Regions from separate parts of the Homo sapiens genome. Here region 1 is linked to region 2. Evidence: fine-mapped expression QTL. A gene starts in region 2. The other region holds a variant in brackets. All regions are shown on one strand. Distances are between the middles of the regions.

What was found. PIP is the estimated chance that this variant, and not a neighbour inherited with it, causes the effect.
Region 1: its variant is fine-mapped to the expression of BBLN in fibroblasts (GTEx, PIP above 0.99).

The regions. Positions count from the first base shown.
Region 1 is chr9:128,101,820-128,109,819 of GRCh38, forward strand. It overlaps SLC25A25 (solute carrier family 25 member 25), which reads left to right. Exons shown (of 11, transcript NM_001330988.2): 4 at 261-296; 5 at 551-662; 6 at 1,862-2,020; 7 at 3,910-4,062; 8 at 4,331-4,438; 9 at 4,534-4,701; 10 at 5,210-5,360; 11 at 5,441-7,426. The coding sequence ends at 5,625. Among named protein-coding and RNA genes, the nearest start is that of SLC25A25-AS1, 13 kb to the right of the region's middle. The variant C/T (reference allele first, on the strand shown) is at 3,641.
Region 2 is chr9:128,155,797-128,163,796 of GRCh38, forward strand. BBLN (bublin coiled coil protein) reads left to right here and starts at 4,469. Exons shown (of 2, transcript NM_024112.4): 1 at 4,469-4,690; 2 at 7,647-8,000. The coding sequence starts at 4,612. The coding sequence ends at 7,819. RefSeq lists silencers at 520-720, 1,994-2,189, 4,209-4,418, 4,629-4,718 and enhancers at 3,370-4,323, 4,324-5,277.

The DNA.
Region 1 (8,000 bases), 54 kb before region 2:
TGCGGGGCGGCTGCCAGGAAATCTCATGGAACAGCCCTGGGAGTTGCCGTCTGTCCTGGCTGGACCTTCCGGAAACCCTGCGGTCTGAACACTGGCTGGTCCTCGGGGACAGCAGCCCTGGGCTCAGCTGCTGTGGCGGGCTCGTCTCGTGCCGTGCTGTGCCCCTGTCTCTGGGTGTGTGCTTGCTTCACTAACATGGCTCCGAGCACTTATGCGTGTTGTTTCTGCTCTCTCCTCCGCATCCTTTGTCTGTCTGTCAGAATACGAACGGGCCATTTCTGGGGCCCTGTCACCTAGTAAGTATCCATGTCGCTCATGACTGCCTCCCTTGACTTCCATGCCTGATCAGAGCGGGATTCTTGTGGGCCATTATATTGCCATTGTTGTGCTAAGTGGGGTGTGGAGCCCCCTGCTCTTTCTCCTGGGGGCAGAGGCACCTCGTGTGGTTTCTGGGCATCCGAATGCCTGCCCTTGGCTCACTGGGAGGTGGGGGGATGCAGCTGGCGGATGGGCATGTGGGCACGTGGGCAGCCTCGCCTCTGTCTTGCAGCATGGATAAAAACGGCACGATGACCATTGACTGGAACGAGTGGAGAGACTACCACCTCCTCCACCCCGTGGAAAACATCCCCGAGATCATCCTCTACTGGAAGCATTCCACGGTGAGCCCCACGTGCCCAGGGCCCTCATCTGCTCCCAGGGACCCTTAGCCCAGAGTCACCCAGTCGTCCCCATCCCAGAGTGCAGCTGGGGCTTTCCAGCCACCTCCTCTTCCACAGGAGACTGTCCCCTCTTCTGCCAGCCCAGTAGAGCTGTCCGCATGTTCCCCATGTTCTGGCACTCCAGCCAACCTGAACAGCCCCATCGTTCACACACACAGGCTTCCTCTTCCAGGAACACCCTCCGTCCCCACATGCTCCCTGCTCCCTGCTCCTCATGGGCCACTTCAAATACCCCTTCCCATGATGCTGTCTGTTCTCCCAAAGCTGGTATGAGCCTTCCCCCCGGTGGGAGGGGGCTGGGGCAGAAGCTACTCTACAGAGAACACCTAGGCAGAGCTGTGAGGTGTCCCCACGGTCACACATTTGCTGCCCTCTCGCCCCCGTCCACTGTGGTTTCATGTTCAGAAATGTGAGTCTGTGCTGGTCTCTGCCCCGAGCCCTTCATGCTTGGCGTGTCCCTCTCTGAGTCCTGGTGTGCAGTCCTGTCCCTCTGGACCATCCGCTCCAGGAGGGGAGGCCAGAGGCGCTCCTCATCTGCCTCTCGCAGTGCCAGGCCAGGGCTTGTTAGGTGAGATTAAATGGACAGCTCCAGGGGTGGGAGTAGCTGGCCCAGAGCTCTGGCCTTTAGCCCTGGGATCAGAGCAGAGGTGGCTCTGATCAGCCCGGATGTCACCCGGAGAAAGGTTACGCAGGCAGCGAGCCCTCGTGTTTGCTGAGGCGTTGCATAATGTTCTGCCAGCGTGATCTGGTTACACGTGAGATCTCAGACGGCTCTCACCCCGGCCTGATCCCTTCAGCGCAGCCAGCCTGGCAATCTCACACAGGCCTGTGAGCTGTTCTTGCAGTAGCTCCCTGGCAGCATTGGAAAGGGCCGGTGAATGGTTTTCTAACCGGCACCTCCCGGCTGTGTTCAGCTGAGGTTCTATACCTGTGCCTCTCCAGGACCCCAGCAGGGGTGAGAGCTCTGCTACCTTCAGAGTGAAGGGAAAGACCCCAGCCCGCTTCCCACCCAGAGTCCTTGGCCTTCTCCCTGTCCTGTGGTCCCTGGCCTGGAGCCGTGCTAGAGGGTAGACGGCGACAGGTGCCAGCAGCCTTGCCCCAAGGGTCCTGAGTCAGGCTTGTGCCATCTTTCCTCACAGATCTTTGATGTGGGTGAGAATCTAACGGTCCCGGATGAGTTCACAGTGGAGGAGAGGCAGACGGGGATGTGGTGGAGACACCTGGTGGCAGGAGGTGGGGCAGGGGCCGTATCCAGAACCTGCACGGCCCCCCTGGACAGGCTCAAGGTGCTCATGCAGGTATGTAGGGAAAAGGCCCCAGACCCCTGGGGGGCCAGTTTCCACCTGGGGGATGCTGCTTGGCTAGTTTTCCCTTTCTCTGGCTGGTGCCTGCTTTGGGCCCAAACTTTTCTAACCCAATAAATTAGACTAGAATTATTGCTCAGACAGGGGGTACCAAAATGTCACTGTAGGTGACATTTTGTGCAGAGCGGATCTAATTTTATCTGAGGCATCACATTACAGGGGCATAATGTGGACAGGTGAAGCTAGCGAGACTGGGGTGAGGCAGGAACCAATTTCTGTAAGTACGTTTTGTGTACGTTACCCCACACTGGGGCCAGCAGAGCCTCACCTGACCCAGATGCCAATGGGAAGCCACGCCATTACCTTGGCCAGGTACGCAAATCCATGTCCACACAGCAGAGATAAGCTGGGCTGATGTCAAGGCAGAATTGTGAAACTGACCCACACAACGACACTGGTGGACTTTGATGTCTGAATGGTGACTGGCCACCACTTGTCCCCTTGCCCGTACCTAGTACTTCTTGTGCCAGGAGCCCGGCTTGGAAGAGCTGCCTCCTTTCTCTCCCCAGTCTGCCTTGCTGGGCCTCCCTGTGTTGCACAGAGACAAAGGAAGCAGGTGGTTCAGGGCAGAATGCCTCGGGCTTGGACTCTGCCCAGGGCACCACCACAGCTGCCTCCCTCCCTCTTGTGGCCTTGAGCAAACCCCTTTCCCTCCCAGGACTTCCCCTCCTCTGTGAAAATAGGGGCTTGAACAACTGCCTCATCCTTTTGTTTTTTTAGCAGAATTATCAGGAATGTTGTAGAGATTGAAAGCAGGCCTTGGGTGAAATCAAATGCCTGGCGTGTGCCTTTAAACCAGCATGGGTGGGGCAGCAGGAGAGAGAGGTTGGCTGTGGTTTGATCATTGTCTAAGCTGAGTGGGCATTCATTCTATTTTTTAATATGTCTTAAGTTTTTTTAATAATGAAAAACTTTGATTTTTAAAAATTATTATTATTATTATTATTATTATTATTATTATTATATTTTTTGAGACAGTCTCGCTCTGTCACCCAGGCTAGAGTACAGTGGTATGATCTCAGCTCACTGCAACCTCCCTCACTGGGTTCAAGCAATTCTACAGCCTCAGCCTCCCTAGTAGCTGGGATTATTACAGGCATGCGCTATCACCCCAGGCTAATTTTTGTATTTTTAGTAGAGACGAGGTTTCATCATGTTGGCCAGGCTGGTCTCACACTCCTCACCTCATGTGATCTGCCCACCTCGGCCTCCCAAAGTGCTGGGATTACAGATGTGAGCCAACACTCCCGGCCTTTTTTTTTTTTTTTTTTTTTTTTTTTTCTAAAATAGAGTCTCGCTCTGTCGCCCAGGCTGGAGTACAGGGGCGCGATCTTGGCTCACTGCAACCTCCACCTCCCGGATTCAAGCGATTCTCCTGCCTTAGCCTCCCAAGTAGCTGGGATTACTGGTGCCTGCCACCACGCCCGGCTAACTTTTGTATTTTTAGTAGAGACGGGGTTTCACCATGTTGGCTGGGCTGGTCTCGAACTCCTGAACTCAAGTGATCCACCTGCCTCAGCCTCCCAAAGTGCTGGGATTACAGGCATGAGCCAC[C/T]GCGCCCAGCCTTGATTTTTTTTTTAAGTCATCTTTATGGAGATGTTCAGGACAAGGCTGGCAACCAGCAGATACCCAGTACGATGGAGCTGAGCCTCACTTAGCCGTGTTGGGTTACTTTGGGCTCATGATTCCAAGCTTGTCTTCAAAATGCACGGAAGAAAGGGCCTTCCCTTTGGCCGCAGCCGGTTGGCCAGCAGAGGCTCTTGGCCGGGTGAGGCAGCCTGTGGCCCCCCGGGTCCGTCTGACTGTTCGGTCCTCCCTCCCAGGTCCATGCCTCCCGCAGCAACAACATGGGCATCGTTGGTGGCTTCACTCAGATGATTCGAGAAGGAGGGGCCAGGTCACTCTGGCGGGGCAATGGCATCAACGTCCTCAAAATTGCCCCCGAATCAGCCATCAAATTCATGGCCTATGAGCAGGTGAGGACCCAGCTCCTCAGGAGGGTCACCGGCCAGTGGCTACTCACTGCCTGGACTTGCTGGCTTTCCCTGGGCTGAGCTCCCTGACACTTGGAGCCAGCCGTGGTACCCCAGGGACAGCAGGGCGAGGCAGGAGGCCCAGGCTCACCACGAGTTCCTTACATTTCTGGGTAGCATAAAATGTGCCGGGGACTCCTGGAAGGGAGGGGCAGCAGCAGGTGCCCCAACCTCTGGGTATATCAGGTGGTTTGTTTGTTCCTGGTTCTAGATCAAGCGCCTTGTTGGTAGTGACCAGGAGACTCTGAGGATTCACGAGAGGCTTGTGGCAGGGTCCTTGGCAGGGGCCATCGCCCAGAGCAGCATCTACCCAATGGAGGTGAGGGGCCGCCTGGGTCCTGGGGCGGGCAGTGGGCACAGGACTGGGGAGAGGCACAGGCTGTGCTCACGCGTCCCGCTGCTCCTGTTGTGCAGGTCCTGAAGACCCGGATGGCGCTGCGGAAGACAGGCCAGTACTCAGGAATGCTGGACTGCGCCAGGAGGATCCTGGCCAGAGAGGGGGTGGCCGCCTTCTACAAAGGCTATGTCCCCAACATGCTGGGCATCATCCCCTATGCCGGCATCGACCTTGCAGTCTACGAGGTGAGGCCCAAGCTGGACAGATTTAGAAACCTCCTCCCAGCACACCTCCACCTGCTGTCTCCCTCCTTGACGGACGCGTGGTTAGTGCAGGAAACTGCATCAAAGACTGCGCCTCCTTCCTGCTCTTCTGTTTACTGCAGCTTTCCTTCACCCTGCCTGCCCCTGGCAGACCCCAGCAGCTCCTGTGAGCCCTGCACCCAGGCTCTGCATCCCCAGAGGCTCAGCAGGCAGATCCCCAGAGCAGGGTGGCCCCCAGGAGCTCACAGGCCCCAGCACACTCTAGACAGACCCCAGAAGTCAGCCCTTCTGTGTGGGGAAGGAGGTGTTCCCTCTACCTTGTCCCGGAATTCCCAGTGACAGCAGAAACAGGGCAGCCAGGCTAGGAGCCCAGCCAGGCCCCAGGCGCGGCAGTCGGGTTCCAGTGGCCTGAGGACCCAGTAACAGCCCCGTCTCTTGCTGCCTCACTAGCCCTTCCTAGGGCTTATCCCATGCTCCCTTCTCCTTCTAGACGCTCAAGAATGCCTGGCTGCAGCACTATGCAGTGAACAGCGCGGACCCCGGCGTGTTTGTGCTCCTGGCCTGTGGCACCATGTCCAGTACCTGTGGCCAGCTGGCCAGCTACCCCCTGGCCCTAGTCAGGACCCGGATGCAGGCGCAAGGTAAGGCTGGCCCTGGACAGTCCCCTGGGAGGTCGGGGGGAGCGGACAGAAGCATCTGACTGGTGGCCTCCATCCTGCAGCCTCTATTGAGGGCGCTCCGGAGGTGACCATGAGCAGCCTCTTCAAACATATCCTGCGGACCGAGGGGGCCTTCGGGCTGTACAGGGGGCTGGCCCCCAACTTCATGAAGGTCATCCCAGCTGTGAGCATCAGCTACGTGGTCTACGAGAACCTGAAGATCACCCTGGGCGTGCAGTCGCGGTGACGGGGGGAGGGCCGCCCGGCAGTGGACTCGCTGATCCTGGGCCGCAGCCTGGGGTGTGCAGCCATCTCATTCTGTGAATGTGCCAACACTAAGCTGTCTCGAGCCAAGCTGTGAAAACCCTAGACGCACCCGCAGGGAGGGTGGGGAGAGCTGGCAGGCCCAGGGCTTGTCCTGCTGACCCCAGCAGACCCTCCTGTTGGTTCCAGCGAAGACCACAGGCATTCCTTAGGGTCCAGGGTCAGCAGGCTCCGGGCTCACATGTGTAAGGACAGGACATTTTCTGCAGTGCCTGCCAATAGCGAGCTTGGAGCCTGGAGGCCGGCTTAGTTCTTCCATTTCACCCTTGCAGCCAGCTGTTGGCCACGGCCCCTGCCCTCTGGTCTGCCGTGCATCTCCCTGTGCCCTCTTGCTGCCTGCCTGTCTGCTGAGGTAAGGTGGGAGGAGGGCTACAGCCCACATCCCACCCCCTCGTCCAATCCCATAATCCATGATGAAAGGTGAGGTCACGTGGCCTCCCAGGCCTGACTTCCCAACCTACAGCATTGACGCCAACTTGGCTGTGAAGGAAGAGGAAAGGATCTGGCCTTGTGGTCACTGGCATCTGAGCCCTGCTGATGGCTGGGGCTCTCGGGCATGCTTGGGAGTGCAGGGGGCTCGGGCTGCCTGGCCTGGCTGCACAGAAGGCAAGTGCTGGGGCTCATGGTGCTCTGAGCTGGCCTGGACCCTGTCAGGATGGGCCCCACCTCAGAACCAAACTCACTGTCCCCACTGTGGCATGAGGGCAGTGGAGCACCATGTTTGAGGGCGAAGGGCAGAGCGTTTGTGTGTTCTGGGGAGGGAAGGAAAAGGTGTTGGAGGCCTTAATTATGGACTGTTGGGAAAAGGGTTTTGTCCAGAAGGACAAGCCGGACAAATGAGCGACTTCTGTGCTTCCAGAGGAAGACGAGGGAGCAGGAGCTTGGCTGACTGCTCAGAGTCTGTTCTGACGCCCTGGGGGTTCCTGTCCAACCCCAGCAGGGGCGCAGCGGGACCAGCCCCACATTCCACTTGTGTCACTGCTTGGAACCTATTTATTTTGTATTTATTTGAACAGAGTTATGTCCTAACTATTTTTATAGATTTGTTTAATTAATAGCTTGTCATTTTCAAGTTCATTTTTTATTCATATTTATGTTCATGGTTGATTGTACCTTCCCAAGCCCGCCCAGTGGGATGGGAGGAGGAGGAGAAGGGGGGCCTTGGGCCGCTGCAGTCACATCTGTCCAGAGAAATTCCTTTTGGGACTGGAGGCAGAAAAGCGGCCAGAAGGCAGCAGCCCTGGCTCCTTTCCTTTGGCAGGTTGGGGAAGGGCTTGCCCCCAGCCTTAGGATTTCAGGGTTTGACTGGGGGCGTGGAGAGAGAGGGAGGAACCTCAATAACCTTGAAGGTGGAATCCAGTTATTTCCTGCGCTGCGAGGGTTTCTTTATTTCACTCTTTTCTGAATGTCAAGGCAGTGAGGTGCCTCTCACTGTGAATTTGTGGTGGGCGGGGGCTGGAGGAGAGGGTGGGGGACTGGCTCCGTCCCTCCCAGCCTTCTGCTGCCCTTGCTTAACAATGCCGGCCAACTGGCGACCTCACGGTTGCACTTCCATTCCACCAGAATGACCTGATGAGGAAATCTTCAATAGGATGCAAAGATCAATGCAAAAATTGTTATATATGAACATATAACTGGAGTCGTCAAAAAGCAAATTAAGAAAGAATTGGACGTTAGAAGTTGTCATTTAAAGCAGCCTTCTAATAAAGTTGTTTCAAAGCTGATCATGGAGCCAGTATTTTTCTGACGGGGGCCTGGGTGGTCTGGGGGTGCTGACATGTTAGAAAATGCGCCCTGTTTTCCCCTCTGGAGCCTGGTGGTGCCCCCTTTCGGCTTCTTAGAGGCGCTCCCTCTTTAATGGTTGCGTGTTCGATTTGGGGTGCCCTGAGTTGCTGTGTAGGGTCGTTCCTCAGCCTGTCTCAGGCAGGGTGCGGGGGATCTCTCCCTCCGCCGGAAGTGCCATCTTCACAGACACCGAGGACGTCGCTGGGCTTCTCTCCCCTCCCCCCAGCTGCCCCTCCCAGCCTCACCCCGCTCCTGCCTCCTCACACCCTCTCAGTAACCTCATCTGACTGAGGATTACCTTCAATATCTATATTTAGATGACACTCCTTTGATACTTGAACGAATTCCAGCTTCATCAGTACAACTGTGAAATCCACATCCACTTAAACAGCACCTCGAGTTCAGCATGTCAGAAGCCGAACCCTTCATTTTCCTCCCAAAATCTGCTTCTTCATTTTCCTCATGCCAGCAAATGGCAACTCCTTTCTTCTACGAACTTAAGCCAAACACCTT
Region 2 (8,000 bases):
TTCCATCACTCAACAAAATTATTCTCTGTCCTCCTCACCCTTTGATTGTCAGCGTATCCTCATTCTTCTTGGACTCCGGACAAGAGCTTGAGACCCACCAAGTGAGGGTACAAAGAAAGCTGTAACAGTGCTAGGGTTGAGCCAGCTCTGGAGCCACAGGCCAGAGCAGGTAACAGGGCTGACATCTTCCTGGACAGGGGTGTCACTGGCTGGGGGTCTCCGGCCGGCAGAATGACCAAGAAAAATCCTGTGTCACTATCATAAATCACCACAAACTGTGGGTTTAAAACAACACCTATATATTCTGGAGGTCAGAAGTTTGAAATCAGTTTGACTGGGCAGAAATGAGGGTCCACAGAGCTGTGCTTCCTCCAGAGGCTCTCAGGGAAGCTGCTCCCTGCCCTTCCCAGCTTCTCATGCTATCTTCCTTGCACCCCTTAGCCTGTGGCTCCTTCCTCCTTCAAAGGCAGTGGAGCATCAGCAAATCTCTTTCTCTGCTGAGGGCCTCACTCTCAGCCAAGGAGGGCAGGCTAGGCTGGGCACCATGGCTCACATCTGTAATCTGAGCACGTGGGGAGGCTGAGGTGGGAAGATCACTTGAGTCCAGGAGTTTGAGACCAGCCTGGGCAAGATGGTGAAACTCTGTCTCTACAAAATTGAAAATATTAGCCAGGCGTGGTGGTGGTATGCCTGTAATCTCAGCTAATCTGGAGGCTGAGGTGGGAGGATCACTTGAGCCCAGGAGTTTGAGACCAGCCTGGGCAAGATGGTGAAACCCTCTCTCTACAAAAATAAAAATATTAGCTGGGTGTGGTGGTGGTGCACCTGTAGTCTCAGCTAATCCAGAGGCTGAGGTGGGGAGTTTGAGGCTGCAGTGAACTATGATTGTGCCACTGCACTACAGCCTGGGCCACACAGTAAGACTCTGTCTCTAAAAAAAAATTAATTAATTAATTAATTAAATTTTAAAAAGGAGGTGAGCCTGACCTGGATGAGAGGCCGTTCCCCAAAATTCTTTGGGTGCTGGTTCAATGTCCTTCTTGCTCTCGCTCAATCTAGTTCAGGGAGGAGAAGGCAGGGCTGACCATGTGCAAGTCGCTGGAGACCCTCACAGCAGGCTTCAGATTCCACCATGCCCCTGCCTTCCTCAGGTAGAACAGTGAGGGTGGCTTCTGGGACAAGAGAGGATTCCACCCCATTGTCATTGTCTGGGATACATGCTTGGGCCTGACCTGGCATTGAGGATGGCCTGCCCACAGGGACAGCCAGTGTGAGACCAGGTCCAGGCTGCTGCAGCCATGATGCCTCCATGCACTACAGCTACTGGAGTCCCAGTAGGTGAGCCCCTCTGCCTAGAACGTGGGCCTGATTCTCAGCTGGACCCCTGGGCAGGATCATAGCTCTGGGTCCAACCCAGGGGTGACACTTGCCGGCTGGGTGACTGTGGGCAAGCCGCCTTCTCCTAGCTGGAAGTAGAATGTGGGATGACAGCAGCTGGGCCGATTGTCATGAAGCCTTTCTTGATGAGCAGTCCATGAAGCACTCTGCCCACGGCCCTCTACCCTCCACTGCAGCACTCACAGGCGGGGGCAGCAAACCTTTCCTTTATTGGAGAATGTGACACACAGTCCTGGGTGGGTTTGAGGTGAGCTTGAACTAAGGGAAGCCTCACCCCTGTCCTGCCCCTGTCCCAGTTAAGGGGCTCTCCCTAAAATGAACTATTCCTACTTCTCTTTATTTTTTAAAAAATTAAATCTAGCCAGGAATGGTGGTTTACACTTGTAATCCCAGCACTCTGGGGGGCCAAGGCGGGTGGATCACCTGAGGTCAGGAGTTCGAGACGAGCCTGGCCAATATGGTGAAACTAAAAATACAAAAATTAGCCGGGCATGGTGGCATACACCTGTAATCCCAGCTACTCGGGAGGCTGAGGCAGGAGAATTGCTTGAACCCGGGAGGCAGAGGTTGCAGTGGGCCAAGGTCGCACCACTGCACTCCAGCCTGGGTGACAGAGTGAGACTCTGTCTCAAAAAAAAAAAAAAATTAAATTTTTATTTAATCTTTTTTTCTCTTTGGCTTCTCAAAGTTCAACTTAAAAAGGTAGCTCCAGGGACCAGGCGCGGTGGCTTATGCCTATAATCCCAGCACTTTGGGAGGCCGAGGTGGGCTGATCACGAGGTCAAGAGATCGAGACCATTCTGACAAACATTGTGAAACCCCGTCTCTACTAAAAATACAAAAATTAGCTGGGCGTGGTGGCGTGTGCCTGTAGTCCCAGCTACTCAGGAGGCTGAGGCAGGAGAATCACTTGAACCCAGGATGTGGAGGTTGCAGTGAGCCAAGATTGCGCCATTGCACTCCAGCCTGGCGACAGGGCAAGACTCCGTCTCAAAAAAAAAAAAAAAAAGAGGTAGGTCCAGGCCGGGCATGGTGGCTCACACCTGTAATCCCAGCATTTTGGGAAGCCAAGGCAGGTGGATCACCTGAAGTCAGGAGTTTGAGACCAGCCAGGGCAACATGGTGAAACCTCGTCTCTACTAAAAATAAAAAAAATTAGCTGGGTGTGGTGGCAGGCACATGTAATCCCAGCTACTCAGGAGGCCGAGGCACAAGAATTGCTTGAACCCGGGAAGGAGAGGTTGCAGTGAGCTGAGATCATGCCACTGCACTCCAGCCTGGGCAACAGAGCAAGACTCTGTCTCAAAACAAACAAACAAACAAAGGTAGGTCTGCTCCAGGCCAAACTTTTTATTTATTTATTTTTTGAGACGGATTTTCGCTCTGTTGTCCAGGCTGGAGTGCAGTGGTGCAGTCTCAGCTCACTGCAACCTCTGCCTCGTGGGTTCAAGTGATTCTCCCACCTCAGCCTCCTGAGCAGCTGGGATTACAGGCACACGCCACCACGCCCGGCTTATTTTTGTATTTTTAGTAGAGACGGGTTTTCACCATGTTGGTCAGGCTGGTCTCAAACTCCTGACCTCGTGATCTGCCCGCCTCGGCCTCCCAAAGTGCTGGGATTACAGGCGTGAGCCACCAGGCCTGGCCTTTTTTTTTCTTTTTTTTGAGACAGGGTCTTGCTCTGTTGCTTAGGCTGGAGTGCAAGGGCACGATCTCTGCTCACTGCAACTTCTGCCTCCCAGTTCAAGTGATTCTCCTGCCTCAGCCTCCTGAGTAGCTGGGACTACAGGCGTGTACCACCACACCTGGCTAATTAAACATTTTATTTTTAATTAATTAATTAATTTTTTTTTTTTTAAAGACAGGGTCTCACTCTGTTGCCCAGGCTGTAGTGCAGTGGTGCAGTCATAGCTCACTATAGCCTCGAACTCCTGGGCCCAAGTGATCCTCCTGCCTTAGCCTCCCAAACAGCTGCAACTAAGGTGCATGCCACCAGGTCTGGCTAATTTTTTTTGTGCTTTCTGTAGAGACGGGGGTGGGGGGGGCTGAGTGGGCGGGGGTGGGAGTAGGGTGTCTCACTATGTTTCCCAGGCTGGTCTCCAACTCCTAGGCTCAAGCAATCCTCCCACCTCGGCCTCCCGTAGCGCTGGGATTACAGGTGGGAGCCACCCCGCCTAGCTAATGTTCCTGTTTCTCTTGTCCAGAGCTGGAGTCCAGCCTGATTCCCACCCACAGGTTGTAACCAATGAGCCCTAAGAGAAGCGCTGAAGACCAGGAAGGCCCAGATCCAGGGGTAGGGGTGTTGGGTCCTCTCCACTGGGGTGCAGGCAGAGAGGCAAAGAGGAAGGAGACCCTTCGTGACTCTCAGCGAGGCTGTGAAGAAGAATATCCGGAAGCCACAAGAGGTATATCCGGAAGCCACAAGAGGTGTGGAAACCCCGTTTCCAAGGCTGGGCCCAGTAGCTCGTGCCTGTAATCCCAGCATTTTGGTAGGCTGAGGCGGGTGGATGGCTCGAGCTCAGGAGTTCGAGAGCAGCCTGGGTAACATGGCGAAACCCCTCCCCCCCCCCCCCCCCCGTCTCCAAAAAATACAATAGCCAGCGTGGTGCAGCCGTCTGTAGTCCCAGCTACTCTGGAGGCTCAGGTGGGAGGATCGCTTCAGGCTGGGAGGCAGAGATCACCCCACTGCATTCCAGCCTGGAAGACAGGGCCAGGCCCTATCTCAAAAAATAACAAGGAAACCCCGTTTTCGATTTCGCCAACGCGGAGGGGCCGAAGCAGCAGATGGGCTTGGACGGTCTCCCGCCGCTCCTCCCGGACCTCCCTACTCCTGGGCTTTTCCAGGGGCAGCCCCGTGGTGGCCCCGCCCAGCGCCCGGGAGAGGGGCGAGGCCGGGGGCGGAATGGGCGGAGTTCGACTGTGAGGGAGGTGGAGGCGGGAGTCCGGTGGTGGGGGTGGAGTCTGGAGGTAGGGCGGGGCCAGAACAGCGGCGGGGGCGGAGTTCCGGCTGGGGGCGGGGCGGGGCGGAGCGGGAGCTGCGGGATTCCGGCTTCAGGGGCGGGGCACCGGCCTCTGGGCGGAGATCTGCTGCCGCGTTCTACCCTTCCGGCCCGTGTTCTATCCGCCGCCTCCACCTTCCATCCGGCGCCGGCTTTCGGCGCGACGGTCGCCGCGTTCCATCGTCGCGCGGCCCTTCGGGCGCCCGAGCCCGCAATGTCGGGCCCCAACGGAGACCTGGGGATGCCGGTGGAGGCGGGAGCGGAAGGCGAGGAGGACGGCTTCGGGGAAGCAGGTGACCCGAGGGGGCTGCTGGAGCAACCTTGCATTTTCAGGGCTGCCCTCCCGGGAAGGGGAATCGAGATGGGGTCTCGGAAGGGAACAAAGAGCCCACCCATTCCGCCCCGAGCGGGTCCGGAGTTGTAGGTGCTGTCTCGGATGCAGGGCGAGCACCCGCGAGCCGGTTCCCAGCCCCGTGAGAGCTGCAGGTCACCAGTCCCGTTTTACAGATGGGGAAACTAAGGCAGCTTCGGGGACACTCGCCCTTGTGGGCCTTGCTCCACCACTTCCTTCAGTCCTGGGGGAGACCGAGGCACCTGAGGGAGGCAGGGTTGAGCTTAGCGGAGGGGCCGGGCCGGGACGTGGAGTTGGGGACGCGGGGGCGTCGCTCTGCCGATTCAGCATCCCCAGCCACCCGGCTTTGCTGGTGTAGCCTCACAGCCTTGCCAAATGTCAGCAGCTTACAGAGCAGCCTTTTGCGTGCTTACGAGTGCAGGGGTGGGGTGTGAAGAGAACCATCGGCTCCCTTCTCACCTTCTTCAGCCTCAGTTTCCCCCTCTATAAAATAGGAATAACGATTAGTGTCTGCTGCACTGGGATGTGTCAGAATTAAATGCAAAAAAAAGGAAAATCCTTAGCAGGTTCTAGCATGCAAGAGTTCAGTAAATGGTTATCGTCATTATTATCTTTGGTATAGTAAAGATTGGCATGTTAACATACACTGAGGATTTAGTAAATGTGGTGTAAGTATGGTGCATGCTCTTTGTTTTGTTTGGCGTAACAGCTTTATTGAGCTATACAACTTACCCATACTGTACAGTTCAGTAGGCTTTTGTGTATTCCCAGGGTTGTACATCCATCACAATAGTTTCAGGTAGCTCTGCATTGGGCAATGCTGTTGGGAGCATCAGGAAGAGCTTCCCAGGAGGTCACATTAAGTGGATGTTGGCAGACAGGACTTAGAACAGTGGGGAGGAGGGTGGTGTCCCAGGCAGAAGCAAAGGCTTGGAACTGGGAAGTACCCTTGACACAGATAAAGCCTGGCCTGGAGGGGTGTGGGGCACCTGCCTCCCCAATTCCTCCTCCTAGCCTGTATCCCAGGACACAGAGTTCGAAATATTGATAATAATGACCATCCACTAAGTACTTGCTGTGGCCAGATCCTGTCTGAGCTTTTTTTTTTTTTTTGAGTCGGAGTCTTGCTCTGTTGCCCAGGCTGGAGTACAGTGGCGTGATCTTGGCTCACTGCAACCTCCGCCTTCTGGGTTCAAGCGATTCTCATGCCTCAGCCTCCCGAGTAGCTGGGACTACAGACGCCTGCCACCACGCCTGGCTAATTTTTATACATCTTTAGTAGAGACAATGTTTCACCACGTCGGCTAGGCTGGTCTCGAACTCCTGACCTCAGGTGATCCACCCGCCTTGGCTTCCCAAAGTACTGGGATTACAGGCGTGAGCCACCACACCGGCCACTGTCTGAACTCTTGATGTGTTTGAATCCTCACAACCTTTTTTATTTTCCCTTTTTTCCAGAAAGGTACAACTTGCTGGGGTAAAGCAGAGCTGAAATTCAAACCCAAGTGACCCTGACCCCCAAGTCCAATCCTGAGTTTCGGCTGTTACCAACCTGGAGGACCCTGGGCAGGTTCCTTCCTTCTGAGGCCTCGGTTTCCCTAGCTATATACCATGAGGGGGTTGGACTTTAAGATGCAGCCGATTTCCCAGGACGCTGTCGTCTGTGAGGGTGGCTGGCTCTAGGCAACGGGTGCCCTTTCCTAGAACACAGGCACATATGCACCCATAACCCAGATACGCTCCTCCAGCTCCTCCACCGGCTGCTTCCCCCTTGGTCTCAAGCTGGCAGCTGAGTGTATGTGAGTCATGGGCTGGCTCAGAACTGGGTCCCGCAGTGGGCACAGGCCCAGACCTTGAGTCCTCAGGGACACTGTGTTGCTGAGCAGGGCAGCTCTGGAGTGGCCGTGGAGGGGAGGGAGTGATGGTTTCTAGTGGAGACCAGGGAAGGCTTCTTGGAGGAGGCATTTTGAGCTGGTCCTTGAAGGGCTGTTGTGGTTGAGGCATTCTAGGTTGCAGGGATAGTTGAGCAATGGCGGAGAGGCTGGAAAGTCAGAGGCTTCATTCATTCACTCACTCAGTCATTCAACAAATGCTTATTGCAAAACTGTGAGGGCACCAGGGAGCCAGCAGCGAACACAGGACCGTTCATCTTTCATGGGGAAACATAACAGCACTCAGATAAGCACAGCAGTCAATCCTGGAGAGAAGGTCGTGGAGGGCTGAGGAGGGCTAGGGGCTCAGCATAGAGGCCTGATCCAGTCTGGGGCATTGGGTGGGCTCCCGGTGGTGACATCCATACTGAGACTTGAAGGATGAGTGGGACTCATCCAGGAGGAGAGAAGGGAAGGAAGATGGGAGGACCCAGCACCTTCCAGGCAGAGACAGCAGCATGTTCAAAGGGCCTGAGGTAGGTAAAGGCAGGTGTGAGAGAGGAAAGGAAGAGGCAGGGAGGCAGGGCTAGCTAGGAGGCAGGGGCTGGAGACTCCGCTGGGTGTTTTATCCTGAGGGAGCCACAGAAGGGCTGGCGAACAGGGCCCATCTGGGGACAGAGGCCTTGAATGCCCAACTCAGGAATGTGGGCTCTGGCCACTAAGCAGCTGCTGCAGGAAGTGCAGAGACTTGGCATCTGGCAGGACTTCCCATGTAGGACACTGGCTCGCCACCCTATGACCACCCTAACCCTAGAAAAAAGGATGCAGTACTAAAGTGTCATTCATTCAAAGCCACTCCTCTTTTGGTATTCCACCCATTTTCCAGACGGTGACACTGAGGCTCAGGAAGCAGTAGGGACTTGCACAAAGCCCTTTGGGAAGCAGGCTGGGAAACAGTGGAGGGAGGGTGTCCATTAGCCCCAAGGAGACACAGGATCTGGGCTCTGTCTTTCGCCTTCCTCCCAGAATACGCTGCCATCAACTCCATGCTGGACCAGATCAACTCCTGTCTGGACCACCTGGAGGAGAAGAATGACCACCTCCACGCCCGCCTCCAGGAGCTGCTGGAGTCCAACCGGCAGACACGCCTGGAGTTCCAGCAGCAGCTCGGGGAGGCCCCCAGTGATGCCAGCCCCTAGGCTCCAAGAGCCCCCAACCGGGACCCAACCCTGCCTCCCTGGGCTAGGCTCTGGCCTGGGCACTCACCCCCTGGCTTAGACACCTTCTCAAGGGCTGGCCTTCAGGGACCCCTGGTGGGTCTGCCTGCCTGGGCCACCCTTCCTGCCTGGGCCTCCCCTTGGCCTACCTGGGCCAGCCCCC